2 linked regions of the Homo sapiens genome follow. The protein of the gene in region 2 interacts with the protein of the main gene of each other region in a pairwise test. Each region holds a gene or a part of one and is shown on either strand. Other genes may lie near its edges.

Region 1 (8,072 bases), on a different chromosome or scaffold from region 2:
TGCCTCGGCCTCCCAAAGTGCTGGGATTACAGGCGTGAGCCACTGCACCAGGCCAGTTTTTTTGTTTGTTTGTTTGTTTGTTTGTTTGTTTGTTTTTTGAGACAGAGGCTTGCTCTGTCGCCCAGGCTGGAGTGCAGTGGCGCGATCTTGGCTCACTGCAACCTCTGCCTCCCAAGCAATTCTCCTGCCTCAGCCTCCTGAGTAGCTGGGATTAAAGGTGTGTGCCACCTCGCCTGGCTAATTTTTATATTTTTAGTAGAGACGGGGTTTCATCATGTTGGCCAAGCTAGTCTCGAACTCCTGACCTTGTGATCTACCTGCCTCGGCCTCCCAAAGTGCTAGGATTATAGGTGCAAGCCACCATGCCCAGCCAGTTGTTTTTAATCACAAGGACAAGTCAGACTTAATGCATAGCAGGGGAGAGAAATTTTGAGAGCTTTTGTTTGAGTTGAGGGTTAGAAAAATAGCTGGATGGGTCTCTTTGAGTGAGTTATGGTCAGAAGGGTGAAGCTGAAGATACAGGGCAAACTGAGTTGATCTGCATGAGAGAGTTAACAGGCATTTGGGGGCTGGAAGCTGACAGACCAGAGACCGGGAAAGTCTCGGAAAAGGTTAGCAGCAGAGTGAGAGGTCAAGAAGAGAGCACAAGTCAGATCCTGGTTAGGAAGCTCCCATAGTGGCAAATGACCAAGGCGTTTCTAGGACAGTAATGCCTCATGTCCAGCCTTAAATTGCTACCTAGGTTATGCTGTGGTGTCGCCTTTTGTTACCATCAAACCTCCAATAAAACTGCATAACACGGCCAGGTGCGGTGGCTCACGCCTGTAATCCCAGCACTTTGGGAGGCTGAGGAGGGCAGATCACTTCAGGTCAGGAGTTCAAGACCAGCCTGGCCAACATGGCGAAACCCTGTCTCTACTAAAAATACAAAAATTAGCTGGGTGTGGTGGCACATGCCTGTAGTCCCAGCTACTCAGGAGGCTGAGGCGGGAGAATTGCTTAAAGCCAGGAAGCAGAGGTGGCAGTAAGCCGAGATCACGCCACTACATTCCAGCCTGGACAACAGAGCAAGACTCCATCTCAAAACAAAAGCAAAGGCTGGGTGCAGTGGCTCACGCCTGTAATCTCATAACTTTGGGTGGCTGAGGCAGGCGGATCACATGAGGTCAGGAGTTCGAAACCAGCTTGGCCATCATGGTGAAACCCCTTCTCTACTAAAAATACAAAAAATTAGCTGGGCATGGTGGTGCACGCCTGTAATCCCAGCTACTTGAGAGACTGAGGCAAGAGAATTGCTTGAACCTGGGAGTCAGAGGTTGCGGTGAGCCGAGGTTGTGCCATTGCACTCCAGCCTGGGCAACAAGAGCGAGATTCCATCTGAAAAAAAAAAAAAAACACCGATCTCAAAGAGGGAGTTGTGAGAACCCCAACTTGAAGCTGGTTGCTCTCAAGTTCCAGAGGCCCGGACTTGCGACTGACGTCTGGGGAGTTGGGGGCAGCAGTCTTGGGAACTGAGCTGTGAGATCTGATACTATCTCTGGGTCTATAGTGCTGGCATTGAATTGGAGAACACCCAGCTGGTGTTCACTGCTTGGTGTGTGGCGGAAAAACCCTCACACATTTGGTCACAGAAGCCCTTTTCTGTGTTGGTGATTGTTGTGCTGGTGTGAGAACAGAGGAAAAACACCGCTTGCAGAGTTTTTCCTGAAACAATACTCTTTAGAGCGATAGAAATAAATACCACGACCTGCGCATTCAAAGCTGTTGTATCTGGATTGTGACTGCGTGGAAGGTCGAGGCGGGAAGACAGGGGCTGTTGCTTTTCGTTATAAACTCTGCATTACTTGATTTTTGCACTACGTACATTTACTTTGATAACACTGGAAAGAATAAATTGGCCATGTAGTGTAGCTTCCAAAAAAAACTATTGCTTGGGTTTCAAGGTCAAGGAAATTTCATTCTCATCAGTTTCTTGGGAAAGAGGAAGTGGAATGATGTTGTCAGAAAGTGAAACCATGGGTCATTTTCAGAACTACTCAGAGTAATAAATATTTTTTGTCAGTTTTGTTCTTACAAGTGAAATGGACCGCAGAGAGGCACTTTTTCTTTTCTTTTTTCTTTCTTTCTTTTTTTTTTTTTTGAGATGAAGTCTCGCTCTTGTACCCCAGGCTGGAGTGCGATGGCGTGATCTCGGCTCACTGCACCCTCCACCTCTCCAGTTCAAGCGATTCTTCTGCCTCAGCCTCTCCAGTAGCTGCGATTACAGGTGTGTGCCACCATGCCCGGCTAATTTTTTTTGTATTTTTAGTAGAGATGGGGTTTCACCATGTTGGCCAGGCTGGTCTCGAACTCCTGACCTCAGGTGATCCGCCTGCCTCAGCCTCCCAAAGTGCTGGGATTACAGGCATGAGCCACCACGCCCGGCCGACACATTTTTAATAGAACCAAGGAGAGCTTGCTTTTTGAGAGAGGGCAGCTGAGAGAGGGGGCCTAAGAGAATCACATCCTAGTTCCAGTAGGATGTCCTCTAGGCCACCAGGCTGGTTTAATGGCCAAGGTGCTTCCAGAGAGAGGAAGCCCTGGGGAAGGATGATAGAGAGTACAGAAAACAGGGAGTACACAATGGCTGCATGACCGAGTTCAGGCCCTGGGAAGGTATGAAAGCTGGATCCTACCTGTGCTGGCAGACCTGGAGTTGTTGCCACAGAGGGCCGATAAGATTGTGAGTACAGGACTACTGAGGGCTACTGAAGGATCGCAAAGAAGTGTTTGCACTGGCCGAGTGCAGTAGCTCATGCTTGTAATCCTAGCACTTCAGGAGGCCAAGGCAGGCGGATCACTTGAGTCCAGGAGTTCATGATCAGCTTGGGCAACATAGCAAGACCCTGTCTCTATATACACACACACACAACACACACACACACACACACACACACACACACTCTTACACTTAGCCAGGTGTGGCGGCATGTGCCTATAGTCACAGCTACTCAGGAGGTTAAGCTCCTCCTCAGCTACTCAGGGGGTTTCACCATGTTGGCCAGGGTGGTCTTGAACTCCTAATCTCAAGTGATCCGCATGCCTCGGCCTCCCAAAGTTCTGGGATTACAGGCGTGAGCCACCCTGCCCACCCAGAATGAACTTTCAAAAGGGAACAAGGATTAGAGAAGGGAGTGACACTGAATAGAACCAGAGAGAAGGGGCTTGGGGGCAGGAAGTTGAGAGCTCACACCTAAGTTTCCATTTCCTCTGAGGTGGGAGGCAAAGTCAACAGTGTGGGGGTTGAGGTGGGAGGGGTCCGGCTTGAGCAGAGCAGTGCAATAGCACGCACCAACTCCTCCACCTTCCAGCCCAGTCCCCATCCCCCATTCCCATGGCGCTTTCTTCACAATTTTAGTTGGTGGAGCCTCTCTCGTGAGGCCATCCTTTCTCCTTGCCTACCGCATCCCAAGAAGAACTCAGCTACGTGAAGGGATGTCACTACCCCCTGCAATATGTATATGTGAAATATGTTGGGCGCGGTGGCTCATGCCTGTAATCCCAGCACTTTGGGAGGCCGAGGCAGGCAGATCATGAGGTCAGGAGTTCAAGACCAGCCTGGCCAACATGGTGAAACCCCGTCTCTACTAAAATACAAAAATTAGCCAGGCATGGTGGTGTGCACCTGTAATCTCAGCTACTTGGGAGGCTGAGGCAGGAGAATTGCTTGACACTGGGAGGCGGAGGTTGTGGTGAGCCGAGATCACGCCACTGCACTCCAGCCTGGGCAACAGAGCTAGACTCCTTCTCCAAACAAAATTTTAAAAATGAAAAATAAGTTGGGCATGGTGGCACGCGCCTGTGGCCCCAGCTACATGGGAGGTTGAAGTGGGAGGATTGTTGGAGCCCAGGAAGTTGAGGCTGTAGTGAGCTGCAGTCACGCCACTGCACTGCAGCCTGGGTGACAGAGCCAAATCTTGTCTCAAAAAAAAAAAAAATGCATTGAGCACAGTGGCTCACACCTGTAATCTCAACAGTTTTGGAGGCTGAGGCAGGAGGATCACTGAAGGCCAGGAGTTAGCAACCAGCCTGGGCAACACAGCAAGACCTTGTCTCTACAAAAAAAATTAAAAATTTGCCAGGCAAGGTGGTGCATGCCTATAGTCCCAGCTACTCAAGAAGCTTAGGTGAGAGGATTGCTTGAGCCCAGGGATTCGAGGCTACATTGGGCCATGAATGTGCCACTGCACTCCAGCCTGAGTGACAGAGTAAGACCCTGTCTCAAAAAAAAAAGAAAAAACAGTGAAATGCATTTTTCTTCCAACTGAGCCTGTGACAGTGACAGTTGTCTCTTGGTGTATTTGTTCTTTTTATTTGTTTGTTCCTTGTCTGTCTCCCACACTGATGGGCAAGCAGCATAAGAGCAGAGGCTTTGCCTGTAATTACCACTGTGTTTCTAGCGCCTAGAACATCACCTGGGGCAGGACATACCATACATATCTGTGAATATACGAAAGAATGGATGATGCCCCAGTCTCTTTCCCCTGCTATAGATGGACCTCCCACCCGAGAATGCAGGCAGAAGTCACTTTGGGTCCAGTAACTGAAATTACTGTGCTGTGCAGTCTAATTCCAAAGCCTCATCTGGACACGCGACCCTGGGCAGGCTCCCCGTCCTGCGCTGGCCATTGGCTACTGGGGCCAAGAGGCTGGCTGGGAAGCAGTGGCAATCCAATGCTGGGGAGGTGGAGTTCCAGCTTCCCCTTTGTTTCTCCCCATTCCTCTAGTTGTCCATGACATTTTCAAGGAACATGAGTGAGCCTGTTGCAGTTCTGGGTGGTTTCAGTGGAAAGGATTTGGCAAGACCTTCCACAGTGAAGAGGGCGTGTGAGTGGGAGAGCAACTGAAGGCAGTCAACACATCAGCTTCACTTTCATTTCTCCAAAGGGCATTTCCAGGGTGTCAGGGACAGAAATCACATTTTCCTTCACCAGGAATTTCTGAGACTGTGGGTTTATTTAGCTTTTTTTTTTTTTTTTTTTTTTTTTTTGAGACAGAGTCTTGCTCTGTTGCCCAGGCTGGAGTGCAGTGGCGCGACCTTGGCTCACTGCAACCTCCATCTCCCCGGTTCAAGCAATTCTCCTGTCTTAGCCTCCCAAGTAGCTGGGACTACAGTCGCACGCCACCATGCCCGGCTAATTTTTATATTTTTAGTAGAGATGGCGTTTCACACCATATTGGTCAGGCTGGTCTTGAACTCCTGACTTCAGGTGATCCACCCGCCTTGGCCTCCCAAAGTGCTGGGATTACAGGCATGAGCCACTGCGTCCGGCGTATTTAGCATTTTTAAAAGAAGATCTTCAGTAAGAAATATGGTTTACGTTGTGATAGTTATTCACGTATTCACATAAATGAAGCGCTGAAGGGCCCTAGGCTGGCCATCAAGGGAACAAGTTCCCCTCCCCTCCCCTTCCCCCATCTCCTTTCTCCCCTCTTCTCCTTTCTCCTCTCTGCTCCTCTCCTCTCCACTCCTCTCCTCTCCGGTCCTCTCCTCTCTCCTTTCTCCTCTCCTCTTCTCTCCTTTCTTCTCTCCTCTCCTTTTTCTCCTCTCCTTTCCCTTCTTTTCCTTTTTGTAGAGACAAAAAAATGTTGTAGACACACAAAAAATGTTGCCTAGGCTGGTTTCAAACTCTGGGCCCCAAGTGATCCTCCGCCCCAGCCTCCCAAAGTACCAGGATTACAGGCATGAGCCACTGCACCTGGCCAGAGGGAATAGGTTTCCTGTTCCCACTTAGCTGTTGCACTTGGAATAAGATGCTTAACGTCTCCTTGCAGGCTTCTGAAAAGCTTCCAAGAGATGTTGCATGCAAAAGAGCTCTGTGTGCAGAAGATCACCAAGCATGAGGCATTATTAAGGGCAAACCAACCAAGTTCTATTTACAATAGCAAGTGTCTTCTAAGAAGGGCAGCTACCGACCAGGAGAGTCCCCTATTCTCCCTGCAGAGGATCTGCAGATCTGCAAAGCTGGCTGGGTTAGGAATGAAGTTTGCTGGTAGGAACTGGGGAATGTTGAATTCCTCTGGGTTATAGAAGGGGAGAATTTGGAGTTCTGGGAGGGAAGGTGATGAGAAGAAGGGATGGAAAGATGAAAAGGGAAGCCAGCAGGATGGTGCAAAGGTGGGAGTGAACCCGAGGGCTAGATTAGGCCTGCAGAACTTAACCTACCTTACTTGATTTTAGTCACTTGCTTCTAGTTGATCTTAAAACCTATATAGCTACTGGGGGCAGTGGCTCACACTTGTAATCCCAGCACTTTGGGAGGCCGAGGCTGGAGGATCACTTGAGCCCAGGAGTTCAAGACCAGCCTAGGCAACACAGCGAGACTTTCTCTCTACTGAAAATAAAAACAAAACAAAACAAAACAAAACAAAACCAGATGTGGCGGCATGTGCCTGTAGTCCCAGATACTCAGGAGGCTGAGGTGGGAGGATGGCTTGACTCTAGGAGATTGAGGCTGCAGTGAGCTGTGATTACCATCAGTGCACTCTAGCCTGGGTTATAGAGTGAGACCCTGTCTTTAAAAAAGAAAAAAGCCTATAGAGCTAAAAGTCATGTAGCTAAGCAATATTTAACTGGACTTCCACTAGCTTCCTGCTGGATAACATCTCTGACATATAGGTCATCATAGTAATGGTTGTTTAAGTTGTTTTTCAAGGGCTGGGCACGGTGGCTCACGCCTGTAATCCCAGCACTTTGGGAGGCCAAGGTAGGCAGATCACCTGAAGTCAGGAGTTCGAGACCAGCCTGGCCAAGATGGTGAAACCCCGTCTCTACTAAAAATACAGAAATTAGCCTGGTGTGGTGGCAGGCGCCTGTAATCCCAGCCACTCGGAAGGCTGAGGGAGAATCATTTGAACCCAGGAGGTAGAGGTTGCAGTGAGCCTCCAGGATCACGCCATTGCACTCCAGCCTGAGTGACGAGAGTGAAACTCCATCTCAAAAAAAAAAAAAGAAAAGAAAAAAAGTTGTTTTTCAGGAACTTGGGGTCAGCTCTTATCCAGTTCAAGCCACTTATGACCATCAATCCTTCAACTTGGTCTGTGTGAGTGTCCAGTAGGTGACGTTTGATGTCAGAGCGCCAAAAACTCCATCTTCCATCATGCTAATGCCACCATTTTGTGAACCTGCATCCTATGAAGAACGATGAAGCTTGACTAGGCTTGCACAGATTGCCGATGTCCTACTTTTCCCTCCAATCACCTTCCCCACACCTTAGGCCACCTGCTTCTTTGTCCCATAAACGTCTCTAAACCCCATCTTCGAGGAAGTGGGTTTGAGACCTGTTTTCCCATCTCCTCACTTGGCTGCCTCATGAATAAATGCATTCTGTGCTGCAAAACTGGTCATCTTGGCGGGACGCGGTGGCTCACGCCTGTAATCCCAGCACTTTGGGAGGCTGAGGCGGGCGGATCACGAGGTCAGGAGATCAAGACCATCCTGGCTAACACAATGAAACCCTGTCTCTACTTAAAAAATACAAAAAATTAGCCAGGCATGGTGGCAGGCGCCTGTAGTCCCAGCTACTCGGGAGGCTGAGGCAGGAGAATGGCGTGAACCCGGGAGGCGGAGCTTGCAGTGAGCCGAGATTGCGCCACTGCACTCCAGCCTGGGCGACAGAGCGAGACTCCGTCTCAAAAACAAAAAAAAAAAACTGGTCACCTCAGTGATTGGCTTACTGTGCGATGAGCAGAATGGGCCTCATTTGGTATCAAGAGGAGGAGCTGATAGAAAATGCTCAGGGATGGGCTGGCAAAGACATTTTCAGAGCAGCGCCGTGTTATGTTCTGTGTGCAGTTGTTTGCGCTGATGCGTTACAAGCCCCTCTGGTGGTCCCCCGCTGAGTCTTTGGTAAAGTCTGCTGCATCTGCCAATTCTTTTGTGAGCAGATTTGTTCTAGGGGTGTGGGGGACTAAGAAAGGGGTGGAATATAAACAGTGCAGTGTAAACAGTGCAGTATAAACAGTGCAGTATAAACAGTATAAACAGTGCAAACAGTGCAGTGTAAACAGCGCAGTGTAAACAGTTTTACCCA
Region 2 (8,072 bases):
CTAGGGCTCCACCCTAGGACATGGTCCCTGGCTAGGGTTCCATCTGTGCCCACGGACCTAGATGAGGACAGGCATTTTTGTTTTCCTGCCTAAATGTTGCATTTCTCAAGACCACCCTGGCCTGCCACACCCCCATCCTGTGCCTATAAAAATCCCCCAAGACCCTAGCAGGCAGGCACACAAGCGGCTGGACGTCGAGAGAAACACATCAGCAGAGGAACACACAAGTGGCTGGATGCTGAGAGGATGTCCAGAGCACATCAGCAGGCCATCAACCAGTGGAATGACGTGGAGTTTGGCTGGGGTGGTTGGAGGGGAACCCGGGCCGCACAGCAGCCCGACTCAGGGGAATACCATCTCCTTTCTGGCTCATCCATCTGTTGAAAGCTACTTCCACTCAATAAAACCTTGCACTCATTCTCCAAGCCCACATGTGATCCAATTCTTCTGGTACACCAAGGCAAGAACCCTCGGATACAGAAAGCCCTCTCTCCTTGTGATAAGACAGGGGTCTATTGCGCTGACTAACACAAGCCACCTACAGATGGCTAAACTAAAAGAGCACTCTGTAACACATGCCCACTGGGGCTTCAGGAGCTGTAAACATTCACCCCTAGATACTGCCGTGTGGCCAGAGCCCCACAGCCTGCCCATCTGTATGCTCTCCTAGAGGTTTGAGCAGCAGGGCACTGAAGAAGCAAGCCACACCCCCACTGCATGCCCTGCGAGGGGGACGAGGGAACTTTTCCCATTTCAGTACTGGCTGCTAACTGGGTTAGTTTGCTCAGTTGGTTACAGTGTGCTAATGAAACTACCAATGCTGATTCAATCCTACATGAAAAGTAACTTCACATGAAAATTCCAAATCCATTTGTCAGAGCGTGTGTAGCTGGACTCACTCCTCTGTGAGTTGCACTTGTTCCAGGCGGTCCATCAACTCTCTGTATTGTCTTTGCTTTATTTCGTTTTCCTGTCTGTTATCCATTTGTTTCAGGAGACTCCGGGAATATTCCTCTTGCTTAAGAGCATTAAGCGCAGGACTGAGTGGCCGTTTGTCAAATAGGAAGGATTTCTAGAATGAAAGAGAAGCAATTCATTTATGCTAGAGTACTGAAAAACAAGGTTAATAATTCAGAAGACTAAGATAAATCAGAAAGTATTTCTTAATTTATAATATTTGCCCAGCCCTCAACACACGGACCAGCTGGTGTTGAGGTAACACATAGAATCATATGAGTGTGTTCAAGGATGAAGCTGAGCTGAGCTGTGTTACCAAAACACCAGGGGTTTGGTCTAGGTGCTCACAGCACAGAAAGCCAATCACTGAGACAATGATTATTGCCAGGGAAGAAGGATTTAATTGGGTGCTGTAGCCAAGGAGATGAGAGATCAGTCTCAAATCCATCTCCTTGACCAACTAAAAGTAGGGGTTTATATAGCAGGGAAGAATTGAAACTATGTATGGGAAAACCAGAATTCGGGAGGGATAAGGAAGCAATCATGGTCAATGGAGGGGCCTGGCTCATTGTCTGAATGCAATCATCTGGTGAGTTTCAATTCTTTGACACTTTTTGGAAGGCCTAGTGGTTCTTTTCTGAGGAAGAAACTCAGATAAAACAATGTTAAGTTTCAAGCTTTAAGACCAAAAGGGTCAATTTCTATGTTTATTTAAAACAAAAACAAAAACAAAACCTGTCTGTGGGACTATTGGGTCAGTTTCAACTGGAATCCCATTGCTGAGACAGAGATGAAAAAGGACTCCTGGAGTAGGTTGTGAGTTAGCATTTACAACATCCAGATGGAAGGAAGAAGGAATTCTGAGTGCATGCGAAATCATGCAAGGACAGAGAGGAGCTGAAAGGAGGGCAAACTGAATACCTACTGTGGGCCTGGCCATTCTAGACCCTGGTGATCCAACAGTGAGCAACAACAGAGATCTTCGCACTCATCAAGCCTGCATGCTGATGCAGGAGACAGACAATGAGCAAGAAACGGTACATCAGGTCATTTAAGATAGTGCTAAGTGCTAGGAAGCCCTTATGATAGCAAGTGGCTGGGTGGGAAAAGAGCTAAACTGGTTGGTTATTAGGGAAGGTTTTTCCATGGAGAAAATGAATCACCTTCACTGTAAATATCAGGGAGACCCGTGTTCCATACAGAAGGAACATTAAGCGCAAAGACACTAGATGGAAACAAGCTAGGCATGTTCAATGAGCAGAAAAAAAGTCTCTGTGGCTGAGGCATAGTGACCAAGGGAAAGGAGAAGGCATAGTGACCAAGAGGAAGGCAGGAGTCAAAGCGTGTAGAATTTGATAGTTGAAGGTGAGGAGTCTAAATTTCATTTTAACTCAATGGGAGGCCAGTGGAGGTTTTAAATGGGAGAATAGTATGTTTTGGTTAACAATATTATAATATCACTTTGGCTGGTGTGTGGAGAATAAATTATAGGAGAGCAAGAATGCAAGCAGTGAATCTAAGGGAAGTATTGGAGAAGTTGAGCATAACAATGTGGCTTGGCAACACTTTCAGTGTGGCAACATTAAAGATGAAGACATTTGGACAGGTATTGGATACATTTTGGAGGTAAAGGCAACTGGACTTGCAAATGATCGGAAGTCAGGAACAGAGAAAGGAATATTGTGATCATGACTAAATACAGGTTTGTGCAAAAATGGCTGGTTGGTGATGCCACTTACTAACATGAGAAGACAGAAAGGAACAGGTTAAGGAGGGAATCAAAAGTTCTGTTTAGGTCTTTTTAAATTTAAGATGTGTATAGATATATCAAAGAAGAGATACACAGCAGTAATAAATATAATCTGGAGCTTATATATAAAGAGAGAGAAAGATCATGCCTAAATTTCAGAAGCCCCATGCTCGCTCGCTCTCTCCTTCCTTCCCTGTTTCCCTGCCTGGAATGCTCTTCCTCCCTTGATTTCTTTACCTAACTCTTGTATGTCAGAAAGTCTTTCCAGATCTCTGGTCTAGGTTAATGAATCTCTTCTTTTGCTCATATAGTGCCCTTTTTTCAGAGATTTATCATCGCATTTATTATACCACACAGTTGTCTCTTTAAGTGTCTGTCTCTCCCACTAGAGACCTCTTCAGAAGAGGGAACCTTGTATTCCTAGACACCAGCACAGTGGCTGGCCTGGAGGAATTCAATAAATGTTTGATGATGAATAAATAAATTATAATTTATTAGATTTATGTCCGGAGTGTCGACTACCTAGATGGTGATATATAAAGAGGAAGATTCAGGCAGAAATAAAGGTAGGCACATGATGATTGAAAACATTAAAACAAGCAGTGAAGCAGTTGGCTCACCACCATCTGAATCTGAGTTTCTCAAACATTAATGCAAATACAAATCACCTGGGGATGTTATTCCACCATAGATGCCCATTCAGGGAGTCTGGGGTGAGGCCCTAGATTCAGCATTTCCAGCAAGTTCCCAGGCAATGCTGATACTGCTGGTTCTCTTAGGTCCTTGGGCTGGACTTTAGTAGTATACTGCTCCCTCCTCTCCACCCATCCCACGTCCTGGTTGAGAATTACCATAATTAACAAGACCTGCAGTGACTAGTAGGAATGGTACAGTGAATGTGAGTGGTGTGGCTATAGACACTGGACAACACCTGCCCTAGAAGAAAGCTTCAAACTGCACCACCCACTTTTCAACTCCGCTGCTTAAAAAAAATGGCACAACTGGCTGGGCATGGTGGCTCACACTTGTAATCCCAGCACTTTGGGAGGCCAAGACGGGCAGATCATGAGACCAGGAGTTCAAGACCAGCCTGGCCAACATGGCGAAACCCTGTCTCTACTAAAAATACAAAAATAGCGGGGCATGGTGGCGGGTGCCTGTAATCCCAGCTACTCGGGAGGCTGAGGCAGGAGAATGACTTGAACCCGGGAGGCAGAGTTGCAGTGAGCTGAGACCACACCATTGCACTGCAGCCTGGGTGACGGAGCAAGACTCCATCTCAAAAAATAAAAATAAAAAATAAGGCACAACCTGCAACACAGGGAGTGGATCCAAAGGCTCACAGATGGGCCAGGTGTTAGCAACAGAAATTTTTAAAAGACTTACATAAAATTCCGGTTTCTCATTCTTGTGGTTTCTTATAGCTTCAGCAACTCCAAGATTATAGGCAGCATTTTTCTGATTCTGTTCTCTAGTAGCCAGACTTTTCATCTATTGTTTAAAAAAAAAAAAAGTTTATTTTTAAATTTTAAATTACATATTGAAGTGGAGCCCCCAAAAATTTTAATTCTATTACATTAAAATAATCCAGCCATGGTAGAAACCTGCCTTTTGGAGGCAGTGGTACTTTCTGATATCTCTATAGATTTATAAAAGTAGATTGGGAAAGGTATTTTATTTCCTTTTCTTGGCCTTTAGGTACCACCACTAGAGGGATCTAAGGAATGGAAGAATTCATCACAAATGCAGGAAAGGGCAGGCAGCAGGGTCAATTATTAGACACCACATAAATCTGGATACAGCAAGTGTAAAAGTGCCATTCTGTCTTTGCTTGAAATAGGACATGAATCTGAAGGGTAAAAGCCTTCACCAGAGTTATATTTTATCAGAAATAAAGAAACATAAATCCAATAATTCCACCTTTAAAATTCAGACCTTAGGTTAAAGAAAATCAGTGATATGTGCAAACATTCGACTGCATGGAATTCATCCCAGTGTTGTTTATTATTAGTGAAAACTTCAACGCAAGTTTTAGTCTAACAGTAAATACGTGATTAGATATCCCACAGTACAGACATATGATGGAACATTTTTAAATTACATTATAGGCTGGGCTCAGTGGGTAATGCCTGTAATCCCAGCACTTTGGGAGGCAGAGGCGGGAGTTGGAGCCTCTGGATGCTTGAGCCCAGGAGTTGGAGACCACCCTGGGCAACATGGTGAAACCCTGTCTCTACAAAAAATACATAAATTAGCCAGGTGTAGTGACGTGTGCCTGTAGTCCCAGCTAATCTGGAGGCTGAGGTCGAAGGATCATCTGAGCCCAAGTAGGTCAAGGCTGCAGTGAGCAGAGGTTGTGCCACTGCATTCCAACCTGGGTGACAGAGTGAGACCCTGCGCCAATAAAAAATAATAATAAATTACATTATATAATCATGTTCTATTGCCCCATATTAAAGACTAATCGAGGTGTTGGACTACCTGGTGTCTGAAGAGAGCCTCCTGATCCTTTAACATCTGATACTGCTGTATGAGTCTCTCATCTTCTATCTCTCTCCTCCTTTCCTCACTGTAGTACAACAGGGAATTTCGTTGTGCTCGTTGCAAACATACATAGCACATTTCCTACAATCCCAAATTTCAGGACAAATAAATTTTTACATTTTACCTTTTTGCTTTCGCATTCCCTTCACAAGCTCTCCAAAGGCTAGGTATATCAAGAAACCTATTATTAATGGATATATTAGTGACAGCAAAATGAGATTTGCAGAGTGGACCCCAGAAATACTCTAAAGGATCTTCTGAACTCTCACTTCATCAGAAGTATTTATAGCAGCTGAAACTTAGAAAGGGATTTCTCAACTCTTTTTTTGTTTACCAGTACATCTTGACTAGTAGATAGATTTATCACAGTCTAGTTTTGAGCCTGAGTACTTGAGTACTTGAGCCATACTCATATAATTAAGGAAGAGAGATTCCCAGAACTCTCTTTGAGAAACAAAAATCAGTATAAGATTCTGATGGGACTTATTTGTTTGGAAACACTGTACCTGTCCTGCCTTGTTATGATCCTGGCAAGCTGGAGATGTTTGGGGCTTCATCTCACTGTCGTGTTTCAGACAACTTGGATATGATAAGCTATAAAAACAATGCAACATTAATTAATGTTTAATACAATCTGACCTCAAGGGCAATAATAATTTTAGAGGCAAGTATAAGATGAAGAAAAATATTTCAGTGGTTTACTTCAAAACAGCTATATGTATAGAGGTTAAGAATATGTACCACAGAATCTGAATTTGTGTCAGATAAAGGTGGGTTTGAATCCCAGCTTTCTTGCTTGCAAGATGACTGACATCAGACCAGCTGTGTAATCTTGCAAAGTCCCAGTTACCAGTCATGTGAAATGGGGATGAAATGTATTCATTCCACAGAAATGTATTGAGTGCTTACCATGTACACTGTTCTAAGCACAGGAGAAGCAATGAAGAACAAAATACACACATACAAAAGTCCCTGCCCTCATGGAATTAACATTCTGATGGGGATAGACAGCCCAGTGACAAGATAAATAAGTGCACTCTATAGTATGTTCCATGATGATAAATGCCTTGCAATGCTGGAGGAATGGAGTGTTAAACTGTAAAGAGAATGGCCAGGGAAGTTCTTACCAAGGAAGTGACATAGGAGTAAATACCTGAAGGAAGTAAGAGAACAACAGTGTAGATATCTGATGGAAAAGACATTCCAAGCAAACAAACCAGTGCAGTCCTTCAGGTGGAAGGTGCCTATGGTCAGTGTGGTGGAGGGAGATGAATTAGGGGTGAGTATTAATATTAATACTAGTATTAATTCATTAGAAAATAGGACAGATAGTATCACCTAAAAAGCAGCTCGAAGAATGAAAATATTTATTTTTTAATTTTATTTATGTTATTTTATTTTTTGAGACAGAGTCTCGCTCTGTCACCCAGGCTGGAGTGCAATGGCGCAATCTCAGCTCACTGCAACCTCTGCCTCCCAAGTTCAAGTGATTCTCCTGCCTCGGCCTCCTGAGTAGCTGGGATTACAGGTGCACACCACCATGCTGGGCTAATTTTTGTATTTTTAGTAGAGACGGGGTTTCACCATATTGGTCAGGCTGGTCTCGGACTCCTGACCTAGTGGTCTGCCCACCTCGGCCTCCCAAAGTGCTGGGATTACAGGCATGAGCCACCGCGCCAGGCCAAGAATGAAAATATTTAAAAGTAGAGAAATAGAGAACAGATTCAGAAGCTCAAACATGCATTTAATAGAAGTGCTGAATTTTTAGAATAAAGGAAATGGCAAAGAACAATATTCTAGAAAATAACAGATAAGAATTTTCCAGAAAATCATGACTCCTAAGAATAGTCATGCAGAACATCAAGAAATAAGAAAGATTCTTAAAAGCTACAAGAAAGAATGACAACCAGATTGATTCGGACGTTGCATCAGGACAACTGTCAGGAGAAAATGGAGCAATATCATTAAAATGCTGAAGGAAAATAACTGTGAACCAAGAATCAGCACTCAAGAGCGACAACACAGTAAGAATCATTTTAAGCAATACAAAGAATAAGTGTACTGAAAAGACAGGGAACCATTACAGGATATACTTTAGCAAGAAGAAAAATGAACCTAGGAGGAAGGACAGGGATATAAGAAACAGGCCAGGCATGGCGGCCCACACCTGTAATACCAGCACTTTGGGAGGCCGAGGCAGGTGGATAACTTGAGGTCAGGAGCTCGAGACCAGCCTGGCCAACATGGTGAAACCCTGTCTCCGCTAAAAATACAAAAATTAGCCAGGCATGATGGTGTGCGCCTGTAATCCCAACTACTCAGGAGGCTGAAGCAGGAGAATTGGTTGAGCGTGGGAGGCGGAGGTTGCGGTGAGCCAAGATCACGCCACTGCGCTCCAGCCTGGGCAAAAAAAAAAAAAAAAGAAAAAAGAAGAAATGATGGTGACCAAAGAAATTGGTAAAACATGTTGACAAATCCAAATTAATCATTGACCATAAAATAATACAAAATGTTTTAACACTTAAAACCAAATTGGAACAAAAGTTCTAGACAAAAAAAATACAGGTTTGGAAGGGGATACAGTTTGAAGGAAATTGAAAGCATACTGAAGAAACATGGTCAAAGGAAATTCAAAGCATACTAAAGAAATGAGATCAGTCCAACAGAAAAGGGGTAATAATGAAGTTAAATGCACAGTAAATAGAAAATACAAAATAAGACAGTAAAGATAGGTTCAAATATACCAATAATTACAACTGAAATTAAAGTCTAGATTGAGTTTTAAAACATCCAAATATAAGCTATTTAGTAGAGACACACA

What was found. The genes of interacting proteins can lie anywhere in the genome.
Region 1: the proteins of CCDC81 (region 2) and SCIMP interact in binary tests that used the Homo sapiens proteins (3 or more experiments, as listed by UniProt).

What each region holds. Positions count from the first base shown.
Region 1 is NC_000017.11:5,224,383-5,232,454, forward strand, and holds part of SCIMP (SLP adapter and CSK-interacting membrane protein), read right to left. Parts: intron 1-8,072. UniProt on the Homo sapiens protein: Lipid tetraspanin-associated transmembrane adapter/mediator that acts as a scaffold for Src-family kinases and other signaling proteins in immune cells.
Region 2 is NC_000011.10:86,405,387-86,413,458, reverse strand, and holds part of CCDC81 (coiled-coil domain-containing protein 81), read right to left. Parts: intron 5,846-8,072; coding exon 5,758-5,845; intron 5,333-5,757; coding exon 5,189-5,332; intron 4,199-5,188; coding exon 4,094-4,198; intron 1,073-4,093; coding exon 900-1,072; intron 1-899.